4 separate regions of the Homo sapiens genome follow, and all the other regions are reported to be linked to region 3. Evidence: microRNA targets listed by miRTarBase, many of them from high-throughput screens and not tested one by one. Region 3 holds a microRNA gene; each other region holds the end of a gene's coding sequence.
Evidence for each region. Region 3 holds the annotated microRNA hsa-miR-6134 (UGAGGUGGUAGGAUGUAGA, at 2,254-2,272, shown strand). A microRNA usually pairs through its seed, bases 2 to 8, with sites in the 3' UTR of a target mRNA and lowers its output. Matches are read on the target gene's strand: a 7mer-m8 pairs with bases 2 to 8, a 7mer-A1 pairs with bases 2 to 7 and ends in A, and an 8mer does both.

Region 1: miRTarBase lists FAM83G as a target of hsa-miR-6134. Seed matches in the 3' UTR shown: 8mer at 1,946-1,953, 7mer-A1 at 1,476-1,482 and 8mer at 782-789.
Region 2: the mRNA of ATP8B2 is a reported target of hsa-miR-6134. Seed matches in the 3' UTR shown: 7mer-m8 at 2,381-2,387 and 8mer at 2,537-2,544.
Region 4: miRTarBase lists TMEM239 as a target of hsa-miR-6134. The part of its 3' UTR that is shown has no 7-base or 8-base seed match.

The regions. Positions count from the first base shown.
Region 1 is chr17:18,968,943-18,971,942 of GRCh38, forward strand. It overlaps FAM83G (family with sequence similarity 83 member G), which reads right to left. Exons shown (of 6, transcript NM_001039999.3): 6 at 1-2,806. The coding sequence ends at 2,417. It overlaps SLC5A10 (solute carrier family 5 member 10), which reads left to right. Exons shown (of 15, transcript NM_001042450.4): 6 at 110-215; 7 at 400-480; 8 at 2,071-2,276. Among named protein-coding and RNA genes, the nearest start is that of SLC5A10, 18 kb to the left of the region's middle. RefSeq lists an enhancer at 1,822-2,763.
Region 2 is chr1:154,347,778-154,353,169 of GRCh38, forward strand. ATP8B2 (ATPase phospholipid transporting 8B2) reads left to right here. Exons shown (of 28, transcript NM_001370597.1): 27 at 631-761; 28 at 1,063-3,527. The coding sequence ends at 1,341. Among named protein-coding and RNA genes, the nearest start is that of ATP8B2, 25 kb to the left of the region's middle. RefSeq lists enhancers at 553-1,537, 1,538-2,521.
Region 3 is chrX:28,492,455-28,497,846 of GRCh38, reverse strand. MIR6134 (microRNA 6134) reads left to right here and starts at 2,184; the gene lies at 2,184-2,292.
Region 4 is chr20:2,815,240-2,820,631 of GRCh38, forward strand. It overlaps TMEM239 (transmembrane protein 239), which reads left to right and starts at 1,125. Exons shown (of 2, transcript NM_001167670.3): 1 at 1,125-1,176; 2 at 1,305-2,823. The coding sequence starts at 1,316. The coding sequence ends at 1,774. It overlaps C20orf141 (chromosome 20 open reading frame 141), which reads left to right. Exons shown (of 3, transcript NM_001256538.2): 2 at 1-205; 3 at 299-591. The coding sequence ends at 536. RefSeq lists a silencer at 1,622-1,681.

The DNA.
Region 1 (3,000 bases), not on the chromosome of region 3:
ATCCACAGGCCACCGAGGCCCAGAGAGGGCCTTGCCCGAGGTCACCCAGGGAGTGGCTTGCTGGAGCCCTGGGAATAACAGTCCCACACAAGGCTCTCTCCCTCCGCAGCTGGACCTGTACGCGGGGGCTCTGTTTGTGCACATCTGCCTGGGCTGGAACTTCTACCTCTCCACCATCCTCACGCTCGGCATCACAGCCCTGTACACCATCGCAGGTATGGTGCCTGCAGCAGGGAGGTCCACCCAGGGGACGTGTAAAGGGGTCAGAAGGCCACCTCCCCCTACAGGCCCGAGGGAGCAGCCCAGGAAGTGGCCCCAGCAGGAGCCCCAGAAGTTCCTCCCCGTGTCCCTCCTCCCTGGGGCCAGGGCCCCCTCCAGCAACCTTGCTTCCACTGGCAGGGGGCCTGGCTGCTGTAATCTACACGGACGCCCTGCAGACGCTCATCATGGTGGTGGGGGCTGTCATCCTGACAATCAAAGGTGAGGACAGAGTCTGTGGCCATGGCGGGGCTGTCCCCACAGCGAGCCCTTTGGAGTCTGGCACTGCCCGGCACTGTGCAGGATTCATGCCGTTGGGGTTCTGGGTAGCATCGCTGGGAGTGGGTGGGTTCAGGAGGTTGAGCCACTAGGCAGTCAGCCCCCCTGCTGGCCCCTCAGGGACTGCCCTGGCTGGTAGAGGCTACCCACCCTGCTGCCCCGCTGTTACCAGCTCTGGCCCTGGCAAGGAGCTGACTCAGGAACTCAGGGCCAGCCACACCCGCATTGGCTCAGCGCTTGATGGTGAGGTGGGGCTGTAGGCGGGTGTGAAGGCACACAACCAGGAGGCCATAAAACTGCCTGGGCAGCTCCTCCAATTGTTTAAAAGCATGTACAAAATGCCAAGAGGTGATGCTACCTCCTGCAGGACAAAGGCCAGGGAGGAAAGAAGAGAGCTGGGAGAGATTGGCGATACTAGTCTGGAACAGATAGGAAACTCACAGGGCTGCCCGGAGAGAGCGTGAGCTCACCGTCCCTGGAAGTATGTAAGCAGAGCCAGGAGGATCCCTCAGAGAGTGAACAAATCTCTAAAGACTCTTCCAGACTCAGACACTGGGACCCTGTGGCTGAGCAGTTTCTAACCCTTGAATGGCACTTGTTCATTTGCTCTGAGCCTCACACAAACCCTCGGTCTGAATACAGAGCCTGACCTGAGCTCCATGGGAACAGTGATGCTGGGGAGACCAGCATCCAGGCAGCAGGCTGCCTCTTCCATGTCCCACTTGGAAAAGGCTAGGGAGTAGGGCCTGGGGTGGAAACGGGTTTTCCTACATCCAGGCTTCTCCCTCTCAGACCAGGGGCTCTAGTGTCCCTGGGACCCACCGCATGAGAGGGATCCCAGCAGCCAGGCCCAGTCTGGAAGGGAGGGGAGTGACACAGACACAGATGGGCCAGGGCTTGGCCATGCCGGGCCCTGACCCCGAGGTAGACAGGAACAGTGAGGTGTTTTGGACTGGAGAGGAAAAAGCCCCGGCTTGAGCCCGCCAGATGGTCTATATGGTCTTGGTGGAGGCCCCATCCCTCTCTGGACCTGTCTCCCTCTTCTCTGTGCCTCAGGGGGTGGGGCCACATCACCACCAGCCACTCTCAGCTCTGCTAAAATCACACCCTTCAGGTGATCAGGATGAACACTTTAGAAGCCTCAGGAAGGTCCTCAAATGTCAAGAAAAATTACTTTTGCTTCCTTGAATCGACAATCGGAAACCTGGCTGAGAACCACTTGCCCAAGGCCGATGAGTGTCCAGAGGCCAACAGTGACTCCTGCTGGGCCAGCGGGACACTGGGGTGCCCATGTGCAAAATGCTTACTTAATAGTATTATTTTAAATACGAATAAAATAGTCATTCAAATACACCTTAAAAAAAAAAACAACCCTCTACCCTCACACCTTTCCAAACACTGGGAAAGATGAGGTGGAAAAAACTCAAGTTTGATGCATCAGGAAGTTTCTTGTGAGATGAAGGCAGGGGGGAGCCCAGGGAGTCAGGGCCCCGCAACCACCAAACTGTCCCTGTTCCACCCTGACCCCTCCAGCTTTTGACCAGATCGGTGGTTACGGGCAGCTGGAGGCAGCCTACGCCCAGGCCATTCCCTCCAGGACCATTGCCAACACCACCTGCCACCTGCCACGTACAGACGCCATGCACATGTTTCGAGACCCCCACACAGGGGACCTGCCGTGGACCGGGATGACCTTTGGCCTGACCATCATGGCCACCTGGTACTGGTGCACCGACCAGGTGAGTGCCAACGTCTCCCGCCCATCCCACCTTCCTGCCGTCCCAGTGGGCTCTGGTAGGCCCAGGCGGCCTGTCTGCCCTCCGCGTCATGAGTCTGGGCTGGGGCCTCAGAAGGTGTGGCTCCAGGCTGGGACATGCTGCTAGGGGTCTTTGCGGTCCCGGGGGGCTTGAGCCCTCCGTTTAGAATCCGATGAGGCCCACTGGCTACCGCCCGTCCTGGCCTTTAGGTGCTTCGACTGAGACAGTTTGGAGTATGGGATTCCGAAGGGACTCGGATGCTCCTCGGTGGCCCTGCCATCGGTCATGGGGCGGGCATTTTGGGCCAGTCTTGGGCTGCCGGGATCCGGAAGCAGGCGGGGTACCTGACCTCCCTTGGCCTGCCAGTGGTGGGGGCCAGCCATGGCTGGGCCAGCGTTTCTGGTAGAGCTCTGGACGCTGTCAGCAGCAGAGCGGTACCTAGGGGGTCCTGGGAAGCCGTCTTTATCCCTAGTCCCTGAGGCAGGGACCCTGTGATGATGAAACTGCTGGCCCTGGGAGAGAGAGAGCAGAGAGTGAGGCTGAGCAAGAAGGGCCAACCCCGCCCCAGCACAGGACCCTGCTCAGGCACACAGGAGCCGGCAGGCCCGGGTTCGCCTCCTGGCTCTGCCATTCACCAGGGAGTGGGCCTAGACCAGTTGGTTTAGTCACTCGATGCCTCAGTTCCCCTGTCTGTAATATGGGAATA
Region 2 (5,392 bases), not on the chromosome of region 3:
TAAAAATACAAAATTAGCCGGACTTGGTGGCACATGCCTGTAATCCCAGCTACTTGGGAAGGCTGAGGCAGGAGAATCGCTTGAACCTGGGAGGTGGAGGTTGTGGTGAGCCGAGATCGCGCCATTGCACTCCAGCCTGGGCAAGAGCAAAACTCTGTCTCAAAAAAAAAAAAAAAAAATGGAACCAATAGATTGAATGTGGGGTCCAAAGAAGAGAGAGAAATGAATCAAGATAAAAAACAACAAAAAAAAAATTAAAAAAAAATTTTTACAGAAATGAATCAAGATCCATTGCAGGGTTTTTAGTTGGAGCAACTGAATGGGTTGTGGCATTTCCTGAGTTGAGAAAGACCAGGATCAGATTTGGGGAAAGGAAACAATAGTTGAGTTTGGGCCACGGGAAATTCAAGATGCCTGGTATGTCAAGTCTGGCAGTTGAAGCAGCAGGTCTGGAGCTTTGGGGGAGTTTGGAGCTAAATTTGGAGATTTACATTTGGAGGGTGAGCCTGGAGAAGCGGGAAGCCAGAGGTGACTTAGGCTTTGAGAGTAGGGAAGTGGAGCTGCCAGAAATGGGAACGGGGAATGTCTGCCTCGTGACTCCCAAGGCCACTGACTCCTCTTCATCCCCAGGGAATGCCCAGAACACCTTGGCCCAGCCCACGGTGTGGCTGACCATTGTGCTCACCACAGTCGTCTGCATCATGCCCGTGGTTGCCTTCCGATTCCTCAGGCTCAACCTGAAGCCGGATCTCTCCGACACGGTGAGAAGCCAGGCTACCTGCTGTGGGAGGCAGAGATGGGGTGGCTGGAAAGGCCTCATGTGAACACTGGGGGGCTCTGTGGGGCCATGTGGCTGTTCAGTGTGTTGGTGCTTATCTGTTCTTCCTGGGGACAGACACCCTGTGCAGCTGGCCACAGAGGCCTCTGCGTCAGCCTGGTCCCAGGTGCTGTGGGTCGGAGGCCTCTGTGTCAGCCTGGTCCCGGGTGCTGTGGGTCCCTTCTCCTTGGCGATATCTGACACCTCCACGCTGACAGAGGGCTCTTCCCTGTGCCCCTCTGCAGGTCCGCTACACACAGCTCGTGAGGAAGAAGCAGAAGGCCCAGCACCGCTGCATGCGGCGGGTTGGCCGCACTGGCTCCCGGCGCTCCGGCTATGCCTTCTCCCATCAGGAGGGCTTCGGGGAGCTCATCATGTCTGGCAAGAACATGCGGCTGAGCTCTCTCGCGCTCTCCAGCTTCACCACCCGCTCCAGCTCCAGCTGGATTGAGAGCCTGCGCAGGAAGAAGAGTGACAGTGCCAGTAGCCCCAGTGGCGGTGCCGACAAGCCCCTCAAGGGCTGAAGGCCGAGGATGGATGCCCTGTGCCAGTGACCAGAGCACCCAGGGCTGGCCAGTCACTGAGGGAACAGCGTCTCGGAACTGCTGGTCCTCATTCCTTGCTTCCCGTCCCCCCGGTAGACTCTGTCCTGCTGGTCCCACCACACATGGCTGGGACATCTGTTCCCAGCTGTAGGCCCTTCCACCAGCTGGGGAGCTAGAGGGAGCAGGCCCAAGGGCAGAGCAGAGGCTGAGGCACGGGGAGCCAGCCCCACTCGGGGACCAGAAGTGGAACCAAAAACAAGAAAAAACTGTGAGAGATTGTGTCTGCCCCTGCCCTGCCTGGGACCCACAGGGAGACTATAATCTCCTTATTTTTTTACTCCTACTCCCCAGAGGGGCCCTAGTGCCTCTGTTCCTGAATTACATAAGAATGTACCATGCCGGGAAGCCAGAGACCTGCAGGGGCCTCGGCCCCTCACATCGTGTATGTCTCTCCTTGATTTGTGTTGTGTCCAGTTTGGTTTTGTCTTTTTTTATTTGGCAAGTGGAGGAGGCTTTTATGTGACTTTTATGTTGTGGTTGGTGTCTTAACTCTCCTGGGAAAAGGAGGCTGGCACACACTGGGATGCCGCAGCCTGGCCGGCTGTGGGGTGGTTTGGGAGGATCCATGTCGGCTCTGCCTGCAGTGACCAGTGCTCTGTGGGGCAGAGGAGCTGACCAGGGAGGGAGGTACCCATGAGCAGAGGGTAGTGGGAGAGTGTAAAGGAGGGTTTGGTCCTGTCTGCTTCCTCACCTTGAGAGTAAAGTGCTGCCCTCTGCCCCCAACACACACACATATCAATTCCTGGATTCCTTAGTCCTGCTGGCCTTGGGCTGGAGCCTAGGAAAGTGGCCCCCAAATCCTTAGTGAGCTAAAGCTGGGTCTGAAATTTGGTCAGTGGGGAGGGGTAGTTTTCTTTTCTTTTTTCTTTTTCTTTTTTTCTTTTTTTTTTTGAGATGGAGTCTCACTCTTGTCACCTAGGCAAGAGTGCAATGGCACAATCTCAGCTCACTGCAACCTCCACCTCCTGGGTTCAAGCGATTCTCCTGCCTCAGCCTCCTGAGTAGCTGGGATTACAGGCACACACCACCACGCTTGGTTAATTTTTGTATTTTTAGTAGAGATGTTTCACCATGTTGGCCAGGCTAGTCTTGAATTCCTGACCTCCTGACCTGCCCACCTCAACCTCCCAAAGTGCTGAGATTACAGGCGTGAGCCACCACACCCAGCTCAGGGAGGCGTAGTTTTCTTTAATTTTAAATTTAAACCCAAGTTTATTGGCAGACTCCCTTTTGACCTCCCTTTGCCTCCCCATCTGGTGCTTTCTTGCATCTACACCCCAGGGCCCTGTGGTGGGGCTGCAGGGGGAAGCTGTGCACCTGAGATGAGGCTGGAACGGGAATTGGCCTCTCTGCTCCCTTCTTCAGTAAGCAAGGAGCCCCGCCCCTCAGGCCCAGCCTCTGGCAAGAGGTGGTGGAATCCTTGTGCCGGGTAGTAGAGGAGGATAAGGGCAAAACCAGGCCCAGGCCAGTGCCTGGCTTGGTCTGGATGGGACACTGTCAGAGTTTGGCCACAGCCTGTCCTTTACTTCATCCACACCTATGAAGCTATTCCCTAAATAAGGCATTTCCCAAGTTAGTCGCTACCTAATCAGCCTTGAGAAGAATCCTTTCCTCTTCTTTGATAGTGGGTCGGGGGATTCTTCAGGAATGGTTTGGAGCTGGGAGTGGGTAGGGGGATTTTAAATGTTCCATATGGGAGCCCCAAAGGAACTGGATGGGCTGCAGTGAGGTGGGGGCGGGTGGGCAGGGAATGGGAGAGGGGAAGTCTTGGCAGGGAAATCCCTTTTGGCCACACAGTTTACAAACCCAGTATCATGTCTGTCTGTGTGTCTCTCAAGGTGAGAGTCTGATTTTTATACCAAAGAGGAAATGATTTTTTTTCATATTTTGTTTGTCTATATTATATAAATATATATATACAGTTATATATATATATATTATTTTTTGGTTCTCTCTCGTTTTTTAGGGAGGGAAGAAAGTACCAAGTTGCATTGAGCTGTAATTAAGGAACATTATAATTTATGACACATTTCTATACTTGCAAAAATTATATCATTTTATGGATATAAGAGAAAAATGCCTTTTTATAAAATTTCAATTTCTGAGAAGTGTGTAATTTGTCTCTTTTCTGATGTTTAACCAAGACTGGTGGTGAAAGTAAAGACAGAAACTGTCTCTTAAATGTAATTGAGTGGGTAGATCTGGGATATCTTGGACAAATTGGAATCTGACTGGTGTGGGATAGCACCTCATCCATTTGCAGACCTCCCGGGATCTGAGTTTCAGCTGAAGATGAAGACGGGGCAGTGGGTGGTACTGAGCGGCATATCGTATGGACTTTGGCTGGGTGCCTAGGACCTTGAGCTGTTTACCTTTCTCCAAACGCAGGCCAACCTGTCATCCCTAACACACGCCAGATGGATGTGTGTGTAGGGAAAGTACCTGGTAAATATTGTAAGGTTTTGTTTTTTAACTCTGCGCTTTTCCGCATGCCTCACATCTTCCTGGCTTCTCAAGTGAGTATCAAGGAAGCTAAAGTCTTATATTAAAGGGAGCTTTCCTCCAGGGAAGGGAGGGCGGATGAGGATGGGGTCCTAGGAGTCAGGGCCAGGGTTAGTGCTGGCCTGAGGAGAAAGAAGTATAGCTTCCTCCGCCGATGGCCAATATCAGCATGATCCAGCCCCACCCGCAGGCTAATTTCCCCCTGACCCAGCCAGTCTTCAGTTATGGAACAATCCTTCTCAAAAACGTAGACTGGGTGTGGTGGCTCAATGCCTGTAATCCCAGCATTTTGCGAGGCTGAGGCAGGAGGATCACTTGAGCCCAGCCCAGGAGTTCAAGACCAGCCTGGGCAACATGGGGAGACCCCGCCTGTATTAAAAAAAAAAAAAAAAAGGGTGGGGGAGCGGAGGGTGTATGGGGGGAAGATGTGAAGATAAGATCTGTTTCCCTCTTCAGGAGAAACGGCCCCTGGCGGGAATCCCGCCACAGACCGCCAGGAACACCACCTGACACCCACCTCCACCCAGGGAGAGGCTGTCCAGTCCACACAAGCCTTTCTTTGGGGTCTGTCTGGAACCCTGAGCTTTGGGCAGCAAGTGGCATCTGGCTTCAGTGCCCCCACCCCCGAAACACAGAAAGAAGCCTTAATCCCTTGAGGCTGGTGAGGCCCCAAGTCCACCCCTCCCACAAGACAGGTCTTCAGCACTGCGCTGGCCTCCCGTTGGGGGTCTGTTCAGCCACTGGGAATGTCTTCCTTGGCTCCTCTCGCTGACCCTGGCTCTCCTGCACCCAGGATCCTATTATGTGTGTCTGAGGGGCAGGGCCAATGTCATTTTAACTTTCATTGCCTCTTGGGGACGCGTTTTCTCCGTCGCGATATAGACACACGCCTCCACGGAGGCTCCGGGCACTCGGGCTCCCCGTTTTCTCCCCTCTGCCGCAGGCATCCCTGGTCTTCCTTCCCTGCGCTGACTGAGCACCTGGGCTCCTGTGGGAGTGGCTTCCAGCCCCTAGGTCCCCATCGTCCTAGTGCCTTTTCTGAGTGCGTGGAGGTGAAGTCTGTCCGATACCGCAGCTTTGTTCCACTGAGCCTGCTTATCTCCAAGGGCGTTCCTCTCCACTCCACTAAAGCAGCACACACCCATGGGCGCCCACTGCCGTCGGGAGGAGCTCCACCTCTGAACTCTCACAATTCATTCAGCATTTGGCCATCCATATTCTTCAGTTCTTCCCGCTTCCATCTGTGCTCCCAGCGAAAACTACGGCCCCTCCCTTTCCTCCTGGTCGCTTGCTTCCATATGTGAACCCTTACTTGCTTCCCAATCCAGCCCGGAGCCCGTGGTCTGGTACTCGTCGCTTTGCCCCGGAACATTCCAGCCTTGGGTCAGCCCAGCGTCTCCCAGGGTGAGCTGTGGAATGCTGAAGGGCAGCACACAACCACGGAGCAAGAGGAGCGGCAGCTGCCCGG
Region 3 (5,392 bases):
ATATTCCATTTTATGAACAAGAAGCATCAGATGGGCTGCATCGTTTAGGAATTGCACCAGGACCAATATTTCTGCTGCTGTCTTGGCCCTAAAGCCAATAAGGGGAATTATGGTAGGTAGAGAAACCAACCACTGGTTCCATGCTCTATTATTTCTGTGGATTTACAAGATGCTTCCATTTATCTGTGGGAATGGTTTTGAAACTTCCAACTGTAATGTGTAGTGATTGTCTTTTTTTTTTTTTTTTTTTTTTAAGACGGAGTCTCACTCTGTAGCCCAGGCTGGAGTGCAGTGGCATGATCTGGGCTCAACTGCAACCTCTGCCTCCTGGGTTCAAGCAATTCTCCTGCCTCAGCCTCCCAAGTAGCTGGTATGACAGGCACCCGCCACCATGCCCTGCTAATTTTTGTATTTTTAGTTGAGATGGGGTTTCACCTTGTTGCCCAGGCTGGTCTTGAACTTCTGATCTCAAGTGATCTGCCCACCACGGCCTCCCAGAGTGCTGAGGTTACAGGCATGAGCCACTGCGCCTGGCCGGGATTGTCTGTTTTGATTTTATTTAATTAATTAGTTAATTAATTAATTTATATTTATTTATTTATTTTTGAGACATAGTCTCACTCTGTCGCCGGGGCTGGAGTGCAGTGGTGTGATCTCGGCTCACTGCAACCTCTGCCTCCCGGGTTCAAGCGATTCTCCTGCCTCAGCCTCCCGAGTAGCTGGGATTACAGGCATGTGCCACCATGCCCAGCTAATTTTTCGTATTTTTAGTAGAGGCGGGTTTTCACCATGTTGGCCAGGCTGGTCTCGAACTCCCGACCTAGTGATTCGCCCGCCTTGGGCTCCCAAAGTGTTGGGATTACAGGCGTGAGCCACCGCGCTGGCCTTGTTTTTATTTTTAACGGACGTTTTTGTAAACATTTATAGTTTTAGTAATATATATTTTTATCCATGTATTATTTTGAAGTTAGTTACATGATGCCACTTTCTCAGTTCTTTCTAGCAAAAATTTATTTATTTAACTATCTGATTGGACTGTTAATGGTTCTCTTTCCTTTTTCTTTCCTAATTCATAGAATCAGAGCTATTTTTAGACGATTGTATACTTAAAAAAATTCTACCATAATCAGCTCTTAGAAGCATTAAAATGTTTGGAAGATATGGGGGAAAACAAGAAATACTTTGATATTCTTAGGGGATTTTCCAGGGAAAATATGAGTAGCACTGACCTTTTATATCAAAATTTACCCACTCGAATGGGCACTTCACTGTCAACTTAAATTTTAAGAGGACCTAAAAAGGTTGTCTAGAATATAAATTAATTCAAATGTTGCAAGTTGACATATCACTTGAATTTCATATGATACATATTTTCCTAGATCTTTGGATATAGCACTAAGCATAGGAAAATGCTGAAAGGGGTGGACTACCTAGGGACCTTGGGACTTGAAGAATAAAACGGTGATGTGTTATCTGCGTTTCCTTAATATAGCCCATATATCCCAGACAGGGCTCTTCAGAAGCATCTAACCCGGAACTGCCAATAGCCATGGATAAAAGAAAACTCCAAAAAAAGTACTTTCTTCCCTAGCTAATTGACCAGAAATGGGGTGTCCCAACAATAAAAAAAACCTTTTTGGCAATACATACACCCTCAGCCAAACATCAATAGAAAAAAATGCCCCTGCTTTTGGGATTTCAGTGAAACTTAGTGGGGAGTTGATTTTCACACCACTACCCTACTCTATGAAAGCAGGTGGTGGGACTCGAATTTCTTCCTTCCTTTTCCTAGGGTGGGGCTGAGCACGGACCTAATTTTCTAAATGTGGAGCTAATCTTCCCACTGCTGCCTGGTGGAAGCAGACAGCACTTTTGTCAGCAAGTTAATGGGGCAGTTGAAATTCTGCTTCCATTCAGCAGAACCAGGAAGTGCTCCAATTCCTCTGCCAAGATAGTGTTAGCAGGACTGAGCAGGGACCTGGTCTTTTTGCCTCTCCCTGGCTGTCTCAGGCAGTATTCTGATTCCCCAGCCAGTGTAGTGGCCGTGGGGTCCAGCAGGCAGCTGAGCCTCCTCTGTACCCAGGATTAGTGAGACTTAGGAAGGCAGTACAAATTTGGGTCACCAAGCATTTCATTGATGCCAGGCATTGATGCCAGGTGGGAGTTGAACCTCAGCTCCCCACTGGGCCTTGATGTCAGTAGGGCTCAGTAGGGAACTGACCCTCTATTTCCACCTGCATAAATGAAGCTGAATGAGGTGGTAGGATGTAGAGCTGGTTGACACTCTGCTTTCTCAAACCCTGTGCTTCCCTGGTATTAATGGGGTTTAGCAGACAGTGAGCTTCTGCCCCCATCTGTAGTAACAAAGAGGTATGCATCAGTCCTCTCCTTACCCCTTGCTGGTGTCAGAGTGTCCAGTGGGAAGTCGAGCTTATACTCCTACTCAGAGGCAATGAAGCAATGTGACTCAGTGTCCTACTTTCATCAAGATGGTGTTAACAGGGCCAAAGGTGTGGCTAAACCTCTACCCCACTTATCTGTAGTGAGGCAATGTGAGTCACTGCCCCACTTTTGTCATGATAGTGTTGGTGGGGTTCAGTTGGAAACAGAATATGCATGGCAAACTGCCTTCATGCTACACTTGAACAGGCAATTGTCTGCTAAAAAGAGGAGATGAAATAGGATCCATAGTCTCATAATGTAATATCTAAAATGTCTAGACTATAATGGAAAAATCACTTGCTATACGAACAATCAGAAAAATCACAGCATGAATAAAAAGAACCAACGAACTGATAAAACACCAAGGTGGTTGAAAGCAAGGTGAATCAGATCTTCGCATTATCTGATAAGGTTTTTAAAGCAGCCATCATCAAAATGTGTCAACAAGCAATTACATATACTCTTGAAACAAAGGAAAAAAATAGAAAACCTCAGCAAAGAAATAGAAATTATAAAAAAGAACAAAATGGAAATCATAGAACTGAAAAGTGTAGTAATTAAAATAAATTCAATAGGTGGGCTCAAGAGTACATTGGAGATCACAAGAAGATAGAATCAGTGAACTTAAGTACAGATTATTGGAATGCACTCAGTTTGAAATTTATCTCAACTCAGGGGAGAAAAGAGACCTGGCAGAAAATGAACAAAGTATCAGGGAACTTTAGGACAATAACAACTCAGGGGAGAGAAGAGACCGGGCAGAAAATAAACAAAGTATCAGGGAACTTTTAGGACAATAACAAAGATCTAACATTTGTATCATCAGAGTCTGAGAAGAACAAAAACATTTAAAGAAATAATGGTTGAAAACTCTCCAAATTTAGTGAAAGCCATATCCTATAGATTCAAAAAGCTGAGGAAACTCCAAGTAGGATAAACCTAAAAAAATGTATGCAAAGACACAACAAAATTAAACTTGTGAGAACTAAACAAAAAGAAAAGAATTAAAAGCAGACAGACAGAAACAACATATTGCATATAGAGGAATACCACCTTGAATTGCAGTAAATTTCCCACCCTAAAACTATGCAATTTAGAAGGCGTGGTGCAAGATTTTTCAAGTACTGAAAGGAAGTAAATATCAACCCAGAATTCTGCATCCAGCAAAAATATTCTTCAGGAATAAACGGGAAATAAAGACATTCTCAGGTGAAGGAAACCTACAAGAAGGAAACTTATGATACTTTGTTGCAAGTAAAAGCACCCTTAATGAAAGGCTAAAGGAAGTTCTCTAAACAGAAAGGAAATGATAACAAATGAAGGCTTGGAACTTCAAAAAGGAAAGAAAAGCATCAGAATGAGTAAGAATGGGGTAATATATTGAAGACTAGTCTTCTCATGAGTTTCATACACTATATTTGATGTTTGAAGCAAAAATTATGACATCATTAGATGTGATGCTCAATGTATCTAGAGTAAATAATTAAGATCATTATATTTAAAATTTAGGAAAGGTAAAAGGACCTAAATGGTAGTAAGATTTCTACACTTCACTCAAAGTGATAAACCATTAATAGAAGTGATAGCTTACTTACATGCATTGTAACACCTAGAGCAACCACTAAGAAAACAATATAAGATGATATGTTCAAAAGATACTGATATAATTTAGCTTTGTCCCCGCCCAAATCTCATCTTGAATTGTATCTGTCATAATTCCCATTTTTGTGGGAGGGACCTGGTGGGAGATAATTGAATCATGGCAGCGGTTTCCCCCATACTGTTCTTGTGGTAGTGAATAAGTCTCAAGATCTGATGGTTTTATAAGGAGAAACCCGTTTCACCTGGCTTCTCACTCTCTCTTTGCCTGCCGGCATCCATGTAAGATGTAACTTGCTCCTCCTTGCCTTCTGCCATGATTGTGAGGCTTCCCCAGCCACGTGGAACTGTAAGTCCAATTAAACCTCTTTCTTTTGTAAATTGCCCAGTCTCAGGTAAGTCTTTATCAGCAGCATGAAAATGGACTAATACAGATATATAAATAATCAAGATTATATCCTAAAAAATGTACAAGCAACTCATAGGAAGTTAAGAAAAAGACAAACGGAGGAACAAGAAACAGAGAAAACAAATAGAAAACAAACAATAACATGGCAGACTTAAGCCTTAACATATAAATAATTACTTTAAATGTAAATGGTCTAAATACACCAATTAAGAGAGAGAGATTGGCAAAGTGGGTTAAAAATATGATCCAACAATATCTTTCCTATAGGAAACTGACTTCAAATACAATTACATAGGTAGACTGAAAATAAATGGATGAAAAAAGATACACTATGCAAACATTAATTGTTAAAAAGGAAGAGAATATATCAATATCAGATAAAGTAGATTTCACAGAAAAGAAAATTACTGACAACGATAGACATTACATAATGATAAAAGAATCAATTCACCAAAAATATATAATGATACTGAATGCATGTGCACCAAAAAACAGGCCTCAAAATACTTGAGGTAAAAACTGATAGAGCTGAAAGGAGAAATAGATAAATCCACAGCTATAGTTGAGGACTTTAACATTCCACTCTCAGAAACTGATAAAACTACTGGACAGAAAATCAGCAAGGATATAAAAGAACTGAACAATACAACCAGCCAAAAAGGTCTAATTGACATATATACCACAATCCACCCCAAAATAGTAAAATACACTATTTTTTTTTCAAGAACCCATGAAACAGTCACTAAGATATACCATATATCGGGCCATTAACATATCTCAACAAATTAAGACTAGAAAGTGTGTGAAATTTGTTCTTTGACCATAATAGAGTCTAACTAGAAATAAATAACAAAGACATCAGGAAAATATCCATGCACTTGAATATTAAAGAACATGCTTTTAAATCTTACGTAAGTCATGGAGGAACACTCAAAGAAAATG
Region 4 (5,392 bases), not on the chromosome of region 3:
CTCCAAGGGGCCTGGGTGCTGGGGAGGGGTCAGGTAGTCCAGTGCGTCCACCTGTATCCACCTGGGGCCCTAGCTGGGCCCAGCTCCTGGACAGTGTCCTATGGCTGGGGGCACTAGGACTGACAATCCAGGCAGTCTTTTCCACCACTGGCCCAGCCCTGCTGCTGCTTCTGGTCAGCTTCCTCACCTTTGACCTGCTCCATAGGTAAGTGGGCAGCAGCCTGGCAGGTGGGCATTGTAGGCGGGCGGGCCAGTGGACAACTTCCCTAAGCCCAGTCACCACCCTCTCTCTCCACAGGCCCGCAGGTCACACTCTGCCACAGCGCAAACTTCTCACCAGGGGCCAGAGTCAGGGGGCCGGTGAAGGTCCTGGACAGCAGGAGGCTCTACTCCTGCAAATGGGTACAGTCTCAGGACAACTTAGCCTCCAGGACGCACTGCTGCTGCTGCTCATGGGGCTGGGCCCGCTCCTGAGAGCCTGTGGCATGCCCTTGACCCTGCTTGGCCTGGCTTTCTGCCTCCATCCTTGGGCCTGAGAGCCCCTCCCCACAACTCAGTGTCCTTCAAATATACAATGACCACCCTTCTTCATCAGGCCCCCTTTTCTCCTTCCTGGCTGGGCAGGTGGGATGATACCCCTTTCTTCCCAGCCTGAACCTCACAGTCCTATAATATAGGTATCAGATACCTGGATCTGAGTCTTTGGGCAGCAAGAGAAGGTAGGATACTAGCCAGGGAGCCCAAGGAAGAATGTGGCAGCCACCTCAGAGCCTGTGGATTGGGGGCAGCCACTCTGGCCTCCTCTGTGGCTCTAGAGAATGAAGGTCCAGACAGAAAGACTTGCGAGAGAGCAGTTTGGAAAGGGGTGGATATCAGCCAGCAGGGAAAGCAGGAAAGGGACAGGGATCCAGGGAGGGCTTCCCATGAGAAAGCATGAGAAACTACATCTGCGGGGCTCCGAGGCTCCCCTGCCAGCCTGGAGGGTCCGTGCAGAGGGACTTGGGTGGGCCTCACACCCTACAGTGACTCCTCTCTTGGCTGGACCCCACCCCAGCCCGGGTCACAAAGGGGCTCCTCTGGGGAGGGTGGGGGTAGATGAGAGTGGGGACTTGGATCTGCCTGCCAGGCCGTCCTGGGCGCTGCAGGAAGCAACATGACTTAGGTAACTGCCCAGAGGTAAGTCCCAGTCCCTAATTCTGTAGCCCCACCCCACGCACACTGGTGCCCTCCTGACCCCTGCACCCCCTCTCTGCCCCCCCCCCCCAAGGTCCCAGGCATCTTCAAGACCCTGGCCCTCTCCCCAGGTGCACCAGACATGATGCAGCAGCCGCGAGTGGAGACAGATACCATCGGGGCTGGCGAGGGGCCACAGCAGGCAGTGCCCTGGTCAGCCTGGGTCACGAGGCATGGCTGGGTGCGCTGGTGGGTGAGCCACATGCCCCCGAGCTGGATCCAGTGGTGGAGCACCTCGAACTGGCGGCAACCGCTGCAGCGCCTGCTGTGGGGTCTGGAGGGGATACTCTACCTGCTGCTGGCACTGATGTTGTGCCATGCACTCTTCACCACTGGCTCCCACCTGCTGAGCTCCTTGTGGCCTGTCGTGGCCGCGGTGTGGCGCCACCTGCTACCGGCTCTCCTGCTGCTGGTGCTCAGTGCTCTGCCTGCCCTCCTCTTCACGGCCTCCTTCCTGCTGCTCTTCTCCACACTGCTGAGCCTTGTGGGCCTCCTCACCTCCATGACTCACCCAGGCGACACTCAGGATTTGGATCAATAGAAGGGCAACCCCATCCCACTGCCTGTGTCTGTTGAGCCCTGGCCTAGGGCCTGAGACCCCACGGGGAGAGGGAGGGCAATGGGATCAGGGCTCCCTGCCTTGGCAGGGCCCAGACCCCTAGTCCCTAACAGGTAGACTGGCCTGACCCCGGACTCCTTCCTCAAGTCAATGCTGCAGGTTCCTGGTGTGAGGGGCTGGGGGCTTTGAGAAGAGGGGGCAAGACAGATGGCTTAGCCATTGGTGAAAATTGCTTAGCCAGGGGCAGAGCTTGACCAAGCCACTGATAGCGCCCATATGGATGTGATGATACCCGTGGGGCCCCCTTGGCAACTGACAGCATCTTTTTCTCATAGCCACTCAGCTGTCTCAGCTTCAGACTCACTGAGAACTTCTACCTGGGTACCACTGGCCTTGCCATTCCTCCCACCAATCCCCTCTTTCCACTTCCAGGAGAACCACAGACTCTAGAGAGGGTCCCAGTGACAAAAATCTATCAGGGAGAAGGCTGGCCAGAAGCCCCAGGAGACCTCAACTCACTCGCTCTCCAAACCTTGCAGCCCACGCATCCTCCTCCCTAGACTTCCTACTTCCTGCCTCAGTCTGCATCCCCAAGTCTGAGAAATGGGCCAACTGGGGTCAGACAGCACCTACTCACTCTCTAAGAATCCCAAGGTCTGTTATGGAAAAATGATCAAGAAATCCCATTTCACCCACTTACACAATGTGTGGCCTTGGCCAATTAATTCATTTGAGCCTCAATGTTACGTGGGCCACTTCTGTCATGGGGTTGTTGTGAGTCAAAGACAATATCTATTTGTGAAGCATTTTGTAGAAGCCAAAAACCTGTAAGATGTTGTTTTGAGCTCTAAGAACTTTCTGTAGGCGCATAAGATCTTTTGACCCCAAAGACTGTTGAAGGAACAGGAAGCTTCTCTGGGCTTTCAGATCAACTCTCTGTCCTGGATAGAATTTTGGCCCTAAAATGGTAAACAAGAGGTCGGTTAAGTGTGTACAAGATGTAAAAGGTCATGTGCCATGAAATCTCAAAATGTGCAGATGTTGAACTATTTTGATTATGAAATGCTTGGGCCTGGGGCTGGGTGCCAGATGCTTGCACAGCTGTGTGAGTGGGGACAGCACAGCCCCAGGGTTTCCAAAACTGACCCAGCAAGCCGCTCAGGCACCAGAAGGGCTTTGGAAAGGGCAATCCTTTGATGCCCTGAATGCTGGCCGTTCGTTCACTTGCTGGCCCCTCCAACAAAACATTGAGTGATCGGTAATTACCAAGTAAGGTACATGATAGACAACTTTATCCACACCTGACCCCCACCCAAGCCCTGGCCATCCCCAACTCCTGCCCAGTTCTGATCCCTGCTTTATGTATAACCCTAAAATCCTTGCTCTTGAAGCCCCAGACCCAAGGTCCCCCTCTTTTGTCCCATAAATACTCAGGGCCTTGGGGCTAGCCCCTAGAACCCTGGTTCATTTTTGCCTTAGACTTTTGCAACCCTCCATGCCACGGATTAGATGCCTTCAGCATCAGTGCCAAAACCCAAGGTCCAGTCCTTCCTTTCTGTTTCTTTGTATTTCTCCCGCATTATGGCATGGTAGTGAGAGCGAGGTAGGACATGGGGCTGATGTGGTCTCATGGTTGGATGGGTTTTGGTGCATGAGCTGAGGCTGGGCGTGAGTCCCAGCACTCTCACTTACTAACTCCATGCCCTTAGTGGAAATCGCTAAACCTTCCTCAACTTCACTTTCCTCATGGGTAAAACTAAGGCAAGAACCCCTGTCTTAGGGCTCTGGCATGTGAGTGAAGGACCTGGGACCACTCCTAGCACCACAAATTATAGCTATGCTGTGACCATCCCATTTTAGAGATGAGAAGTCAGGCCCAGGATAGCCAGTTGCCAGTGGCAAGGCCAGGCCATCTGAGTCCTACCAGGCTACTCAAGGGAAGGTGAAGGGGGCAAAGGAAACACAAACAACCTAACTAACTGAAGACCCCAAGGCTTCTCAAGAGCTCCTATCAGAGCTAAAGCCCAGGCCTAGGGAAGTCATGAGTCAAGCCAATCTAGATGGCAAGCTGAGGATTCAGGATCCCATGTGGTGAGGGCAGAGACCAGGCTGCCTGGCCTAGATCCATCATTGACTTGGCCATGCATTGCTAGCCAGGGACGTTGCTCTGGAGCCTTGGGTCCATTCCAATGAAGGGAGAGAGGAGTTTGGGGCCCTGACCAGATGCTCTAGTGGATGGGATGTGGGCAGCAGCAAGGAGAAGACCTTCTTCCTTTCCCCACAGACTATATACCTTTTACCCTCCTGCCCAGCTGGTATGGGGTAAGGAGGTGCACCCAGACTAGAGAGCTGATGGGCAATACTCATCAAATTAGATCCACATATACCCTAGGACCCAGAACCCCAGAATGAATTTTCACAGAGGTCCATAAGGGCCTTGCCCCTCAAAATGTAGTCCCAGAATCAGCAACACAGGCATCACCTGGAAGCTGGTTGGAAATACAGTCTCAGGCCCTGCTCCAGACAGGCCGAATCAGAGTCTGCATTTTTTTTTTTTTTTTTTTGAGACAGAGTCTTGCTCTGTTGTCCAGGCTGGAGTGCAGTGGTGCAATCTCGGCTCACTGCGCTCCACCTCCCAGGTCCAAGCAATTCTCCTGCCTCAGCCTCCTGAGTAGCTGGGATTACAGGCGCCTGCCACCGAGTCCGACAAACTTTTGTATTTTTAGTAGAGACAGGGTTTCACCATGTTGGCCAGGCTGGTCTTGAATCCCTGACCTCAGGTGATCTGCCCACCATAGCCTCCCAAAGTGCTGGGATTACAGGCGTGAGCCACCGTGCCTGGCCAAGAGCCTGCATTTTAACAAGATTCCCAGGTGATACATTGTACCCTGTTTGAGAAGTGAAGCATAAGGGGGTATTATGAGAATGCCTATTGCACTGTTACTAGTGGGAGCAGGATAGGTAAAGGGAAGGGTAAAACAAGGCAGATGGGCCCAAGGGGCAGTAATTAGAAGGGGCAGAAGGTACATGAACCAATCTTAAAATCTTAGCATTGAAAAAGAAATGGAATGAGAATACAATTCCTCTTACACAAATTTAAAAGCATGTCAGCAAAACAAGACAATTTTTGGCAAGAACACATAAAAACGAAAGATAAACAGAATGGAATGGACAACTCTAGGGGCAGGCAAGTGGGAGTAGGGTATAGAGATAACAGGCAATAAAGCTAGAGAGCTTGCAGAGGCGAAACGTGATACCATCAACGTAATTCCTGAAATTCCTTTAAAAGTAGAAAAAGAAGTCCATTTAGAGTTAAAAGGCTTAAAAATGCAAGTCTGGGGAGAATGGGCATGGTGGAAGCCCTTCGGTTTGGGCCAAGAAGGGCGAGCCTTCCTATCGGCCTGTGTGTGACCTGGGCTGCTGGGTGGATGTGTTTGCCGGCCCTCCCCCACCGCACCCCGCAGGCTGCTCTCATGGGATTGGACTGTGGGCCGGGGATCCAGCAACAACTTCGGCCTGGCCGGAAAAATAAAGTCAAGGAGAGCATAAGGAACCGGAGCGGAGGCGGTGTCAGCGAGAGGGGCCTTGCGTCTCAGGAGA